2 linked regions of the Homo sapiens genome follow. The protein of the gene in region 2 purifies or fractionates together with the protein of the main gene of each other region. This does not show direct contact. Each region holds a gene or a part of one and is shown on either strand. Other genes may lie near its edges.

Region 1 (3,622 bases), on a different chromosome or scaffold from region 2:
AAAATACAAAAAAATTTGCCAGGTATGGTGGTGGGTGCCTGTAGTCCCAGCTACTCGGGAGGCTGAGACAGGAGAATTGCTTGAACCCAGGAGGCGGAGGTTGCAGCGAGCCAAGATCATGCCACTGAACTCCAGCCTGGGCAACAGAGTGACACTCTGTCTCAACAACAACAAAAAATTGATTATCTGAACATTTTTAATGGTACAGACAATTATTCTTTATATGTATTCACATACCTTAATTGGTTATTTAGATATTATTGTCTCTAGCATTGGGATGTGGACATTTTTCAGGAACATGTGTTTTTTTTCGTTTTTTATTTAAACAGTTATTTTTTTATAAAACTGCAATCTTTTTCAAAACTTCATTTTATGGTTAATATATTTGAAATTATGGACAACTTTAATTGATGCTTCACTATATGTTTTTAACTGAGAACACATTTCCTCTCTAGATACTGATGAACCTGTAAGTTCTGCTAAATGAAGAATCTTCTCATTTTTTAGATTAAAATATGTAAATATTTCAGGCCAATATCGTCATAGGTGCTGTCTTTCTACCTTCATTCAAAGCACTTTTGCTCAATAATTTCTTACAAGATAAAACTTTCAAGTTGTCTATATCTGTGATTGTTTCAACATTTCACCAAATCTAGATACTGCAAAATCATAGACTTTCACAATTTTTCTCCATTTTGGTAGAGAATAAAAATTTATCCAAATAAAATTAGAAGTCAAAATACATCAAAGTCAAGATTTTTCTGAAGCACAATTGTCAAAATAGATAATTAAACCATATCTGCTTTCATCTTTTGATTTGTTCAACTCCTTCTTCGCTTTTGTAGGGAGAAATTTGAGCTTCTTCCTTTGCAAGCCTTATTTTACATAATTGTAACTTGCTAAAAGCTTCAAAAGCTGAATTTTCATGCTACATTCATTCAGTAATCGATTAAAAATTTCCAACTGGTCTTGAACATAATGCAATCTAAATTTGGGTTGCTTTACAAAGTGGTTTTTCAAAGGCTCAGGCATTCCCAAAATCCAATTGATGACATGCAACACAGACAGGAATATACATATAGTCATTCTGAAATGTTTCCTTGCATGGTAGTGTTCAATATCAGCTTCTGTCAGAAAAGTTTTGTAGATCAGTTACTTATAAAATCTGTGTGTGTGTGTGTGTGTGTGTATATATATATTTATAATTTATACATTTTGACAATTTTAGTTTCTGTTTTGACTGACAGAATACCGCAGCTTGTTTGAATGCAGTCACAAATTTTGTGCACATTACAACCAATTCCAAGTACATTTCTGCTTCATAGCTTGTTAACTTGGTAAGAACATTTTTAACACAATGCTGTGCTCTATTAACATTTGTATTCATATTCTTACAACAAAAACAACAGTTTACCTTCAATGTTGAGCTTTTCAACTAAATTTACAGTGGCATTAACAATGTCAGATGTTTCACTTTTTGACTAGGAAATAAATTTTCACATATTTTATTTTGATTGTTTGAATTAGATAAAAAACAAAATTGAAACATTTCAGAATTAATACATTTTTGAATTGAGACCTCTAAGGAAATTATTATAAAAAACATTATTTGAAGGTTTGCAAAGGAAAATCACTCATTAATTATTACCAGTTTACTTACAAGTACAAGAAAACTTGGAATTGAAAATGAGCAAAATTAATTTATGAGTTATTTGATACTAATGGGAAGGTGTGCTTCACAATGACATGTACATAGGCCTCCTGCAGCTGCCGTGTTGAAGTCATTTTAAGGCATATTCTTCTTAAATTATTAACTTTGGAAATAGATGCCAAAGCTGCTTCACCATATTTGTACCTTCTGGTTTTCAAAGGGATAGTGATCTTTCTACTTGCCTGCATGGTACATGGTAAATATTGAAAAATATTTTCTGCACGTTGCATATTCATTATCAGCTTTCTTGAGACAATTAAACATGTGGGTTTTGTTTTGAGCTAACTGCTGAAAGGGTTTATTGTAAAATTCAAAAGGCATTACCATATAATAAAACAAATAGAGCTTCACATATACAAATAATAACAAAACTGCTTTAATAAAACAATTAGGTTACACTATACTCTATGGCAAAATTACTTAGCCTCTATTTCCTAAACATAATTTGTATGACATTAAGCCACAATTTCTCCCATTTTCTACTGACTCTGAGGAGGTTCCACGCATCTCACAGGCCACCCACCACACGACCACATGAGGGCATGAGTGGTGGTTCACAAAGTGGCCAGCAGGGGGAAAAGCCTCAGAAATTCTTCTGCTACCACCTAAGATCAGAAGAGGTACTTGTGCTTGAGCTCTTAGCTTTAACAGGCAGCACCCTGCATATAATTCTTGAAAGGTTGCTGCTAGCTAGGTTTCATCTGAACAGAATCAAGAAAAAAGACAAGTTATCATTAGCCATCTTTTGCATTTAACCATAATTAAGTCAGAATTTGGCTGGGGACAGTGGCTCGTGCTTGTAATCCCAGCACTTTGGGAAGCTGAGGCAGGCAAATCACCTGAGGTCAGGAGTACAAGACCAGCCTAGTCAACATGGTGAAATCCTGTCTCTACTAAAAATACAAAAATTAGCTGCGCATGGTGGTGCATGCCTGTAGTCCCAGATACTCAGGAGGCTGAGGCAGGAGAATCACTTGAACCTGGGAGGCAGAGGTGGCAGTGAGCCAAGATTGCACCACTGCACTCCAGCCTGCACGACAGAAAGAGACTCCATCTCAAAAAAAAAAAAAAGAGCACTGTTCACTGAATATGTGTTTCATACGCTGCTAGATGAGACCATGGAAGAAGCTGGAAGGAGGTCTGTTAAGCCATAGTGGCTTACTTAATGCAAATACTGATAAGAAAACTTTAAATAAAATTGAAGATCTGGGGTAAAAAGTAAAGTTAATAGGATGTGAGAAAAACAAGCATAAACCCAGGACTCTTTCAGGTAAACCAGGATATATGGTCACCCCAGAAAGATCAACATGAAACTATGGCTTTTACTCCAAATGAGATGGGAGTCATTTTGGGGTTTTGAGTAGAAGAATGACAGGGTCTGACTTTAGTTTTTAAAGGTGACCCTGGCTGCTTGAGAACAGACTGCAGTGGGGCAAAGGGCAGGAGACCACTTAGGAGCCTACAGCTATAATCTAACACTGAGAACAAAGACAATAGTTCCCTAGTAGAGAGATAAATTCGTATCGTTAAAATTGTGTATGTGTCTGGAGAAAAGAACAGTTAGGGCGTAAACTACCCCTGAGCTCAAATTTCAGGTCTGTGCTTCTGGCTATTTCATACAGGGAACAATGATGAATCAAAATATCATAGTACAAAATTACCAGCTATGAAGAGCATCTACTTAATTCATCTTACACTAATTCCATTCTCATCAAGCAACCTTTTAATTATAATGTACGTCCATATAGACTTATCCATAGGAAGAGAATGCATATATGAGTAAATATAGCTGTTTTACTTGATAGCTTTAACTGTAAATTTGATTTCTGAGTTTTGTTTTTTTTTTGTTTGTTTGTTTTTTGAGACAAGCTCTCATTCTGTCGCCCAGGCTGGGATGGAGTGGCGCAATCA
Region 2 (3,622 bases):
AAGAATGTATATTAAAAACATTTTTCCTTAATTCAGACAAACTAAAATCTTAAGAGGAAACCCAGACCAAAATATCACTCATGCAACATTAAGTGTATTAACTGATTGATATGCAATGCCATAGTGGATGAATAGCAAATTATATGATGCAATAGCATTTAAAAACTTTTTAATCTATTCAATTTGAACATTTTAAATAATGCAACATAGTATTCTGATATTACAGTATTAACATAGTGCTTGATTAAAGATCTGCAAATCTTTGTAGTAACACATTAAGTTAAAAAATTACCTCAGAAGGTAAATATGAAGACGAAAGGAGAATATTTTAATACAGTAATCTGTGCCATACTGACAATTGAGTACGAATACAGCTGAGGATAGTTGACTAAGTAGTAAGAGCTTAATTTTAGTGGTTTAAGAAAAGTTTAGAAATATTTAAAAATTACAGCTACTTTAAAATTTAAGGATTACATATAAGTACACTTGGTGGCCTTCTGGCCAAACAATAAGGTGTACAGAAATTTATTCATACAGTGTTAATTCACAGTCCTGATAACTCAATGGCTTGCATAAGAAAGGTATGGCTAGATGTTTCTCACTGGCTGGAAGCAGACATTATATAACTAATCTTTTTAAATGACAAAATACTGAACTTCCACCCTGCTTAATAATCATGGATACCTGCACAAAAAAAAAGATGTTAGCACTGTAACAAAGAAGTCAAGGTGTTGGTAATCCACTGCTATAAAGTATAATATTTTGCTTACCTATTTAAACAAAACTACCCATATTTGTCTGTGACAGTACATTAGTAAGTCAAATCCATCATCCTGCACAAGGCTTAATTTCTCAAATAAGTCTACTGAGCTTTTCTAATGGTTATTTAATAACTTTCCATTGAGTTTGAATGGATATATGAAGGGAAGAAAAAAAATCTTATCAATAAATCCTGTATATTTGGGAACTATTCCCTGATTCCCAAATAAAAAATAATTGTGTACTGGGTTCCCTCCTTATGGCTCCATATTAAATAACCTGTCAGGGAATAATTTTAAATCTACTTTCAAATTGAGGTGTGGTTATCATAGGTTAGTGATTTTAAACAACTGAGAATATAACTTTTATTTTGTAAAGTCACTATTAAGTGTATAAAAAGGATACTCTTTTTATGGAAATTCCAAATAAGCACATTTTCCTTCAAATCTCAGACAAGTTTTTTTTTTTTTTTTAAAGAAAGTACAGAACAAAACATACCAACATAATGTGTGGTGTATTAGCATAATTTAAAAACAAATGCAGAGAGGTGATCTTTAAATTTAATATCAAAATATGCTGACCATTAGAACTGCATTATAATTTTGAAGAAATGATTGACAACCTTTGTCACCAATTGTGTTTGCTTCATAGAAAAAACAAGACTTGCTAATGTTTTCATATACACAATCTGAAGAAGTTATGTTGTTCATAAGAAAGTGATATTTAATTCTAAGCACAGAGTATTCACAAAAACAAGTTTCAGTAAAAAAAAAAACTAAAACAAACACTGAAGTAGAGTTTTGTAAATACAACTGATTTTGTCCTTGTAGATAATTAGTGAACGTACAAATAGAAATTTTGCTAGACTGCTTCCAAGAAAGCTAGGTAGACTCGGCGACTGTGAATTCAAGTCAGCAATGCAGGTAGGAGGCGAACTTGGGCTCTTTTGTGAGCAGCACTGTAGAAAGGATTTTTCAAGGGGGTACAGCCTGCATAAAAGCAGTTATCTTGGCATGTGCAAACAAGAAGGGGGAAAGTTGTATTGAAGGAGGGGTGAATTAAAGTCCCTAAAATTCAAGTCCCTTCTTTAGGGAGGTGAGAACCTCCTTGGCATATGCCCTACCTTAATCTGAGCTGTGTTATAGAAAAGTACAGACTCTGGTGTTTGGGACTGACATCTCCAAACCAAGAAAATTAAATAAATAAAAAAGGCAAGGGAAGTTTAAAAAATGGTTCTTTCACTAGTGGAATAGAGTCTGAATACCAGAATTCACTGAGAATCTATTTACACCACAGTTTGATTGCGCGCACACACACACACCCATACATATGCATACTCTCACATACATTCCCAATCTTTAATTTAAAAAAAAAAGTCAAACAATCAAGAATGACTGCTTGAAAAATAATTTGTAAAATGCCTAGAGCTGGGCTAAATTTCAACCTTATAGCAGATCCTGAAAATAAATTTCATAATAATATTTCCATGCCTAAATATGCCACTGTTAAAACTGAAAAAAATTTAAGCATGTAACATTAAACACTAAAATTAGTTTAAGCATTCAGTAGCAAATGGTTTTTCTTGTAAAACTAAGTTTCTTTCACCGGAAATGGCCTGAAATATTAGTCATAGCCCTAAACCATAGTACAAAATATAACTGAAGAATTCTCATTTTATTCTAAGTTAAACCACCTAACAATACCACTTGTATATTGCCATCATGTTATTCTGTAAAGATGTGATATATAAAATGCTGTAAGACCTGGTACCTTTTCAATTTATAAACACAGTGAACTTCATTACTGTACATGTACTCTGCAACTACAGCTTAGCTGTAAATCCTCCACACACAATGGTATGGACATTATTCCCCCTCTATCCCCGTTAAACTGTACATCGAGACAATACAAATTTACTGTCCCACCCACCCCCTTACAAAAAAATAATACTCTAAAAGCAACCCTACTGCAACTTTTTAATTAAGACGATTACATATATTTTAGACCAATTGCTTTAAAGCAAGAAGGCAGTATAAACCTTCTAGGAAAATTTTTATAAAAGAGGTTAAGAAATATAAGACAATTTATACATTTAAAAACTTACAATAAATAAGAGAAGAGATGCAGGCATTTTTGAATACTAGATACTATAATCCATACAAGAACATCTTCATGTTCTGAAGCCATATGTTGAAATTCATTGTTCCTCATGTTTCCTCTCCATGCTTTTAATATTCATTTAACATGACTGGGTACTATGGCTCATTACTTTTCACAAATACTGTGACTGGAAAAAAAAAAGGTTAATTTTGCTACGAAAATGTTATAATACGTTTTGTATGATCAGTCATCATCCTAAAGAGTTCAATAGAGTCAATGAAAAATAGCAGGGTTATAGCCCCTCCCCCCAAGTCAAAACAATATTTGTTGAAGTAATAAGAATTAGACCCCATCACAAATGACCTTCACTGAGAAGATAATTGTAACTTAATCCTGCAGCGAAACATCCATTTTTCCTTGTTCTTTTCTTGCACAGTTCCATCAAATGAAGATCACAGCATATTCATAATAAAGTTATATAACTGATTCAGCACCACAAAATGAATTGGGAGACATGAGCGTCTGTCCTGGGTTGCAGGGTCACAGGTTAGCCAGGAGAGTGCATTGTACTGTTCCAAAACAAACCTGAAAAGCAAATAAACTGCATAAGTCATTTATTTATTTCCAACCTAGATTTTGGAAGCAGTTTTCAATTATGGCATTTAAGACTCAAAGTCACCTTAAAAAAGAGTGTAACAGAGAGTCCTTGAGGGGAAAGAAGCAATTTCCATAAAAATTATTCTCAAAAGTAGATTACTCAAGT

The links.
Region 1: the proteins of MED13 (region 2) and LPXN purify together in Homo sapiens (co-immunoprecipitation; one large-scale study listed by IntAct). This does not show direct contact.

Annotation. Positions count from the first base shown.
Region 1 is NC_000011.10:58,565,835-58,569,456, forward strand, and holds part of LPXN (leupaxin), read right to left. Parts: intron 1-3,622. UniProt on the Homo sapiens protein: Transcriptional coactivator for androgen receptor (AR) and serum response factor (SRF). Contributes to the regulation of cell adhesion, spreading and cell migration and acts as a negative regulator in integrin-mediated cell adhesion events.
Region 2 is NC_000017.11:61,943,157-61,946,778, forward strand, and holds part of MED13 (mediator of RNA polymerase II transcription subunit 13), read right to left. Parts: intron 3,445-3,622; coding exon 3,312-3,444; 3' UTR 1-3,311. UniProt on the Homo sapiens protein: Component of the Mediator complex, a coactivator involved in the regulated transcription of nearly all RNA polymerase II-dependent genes.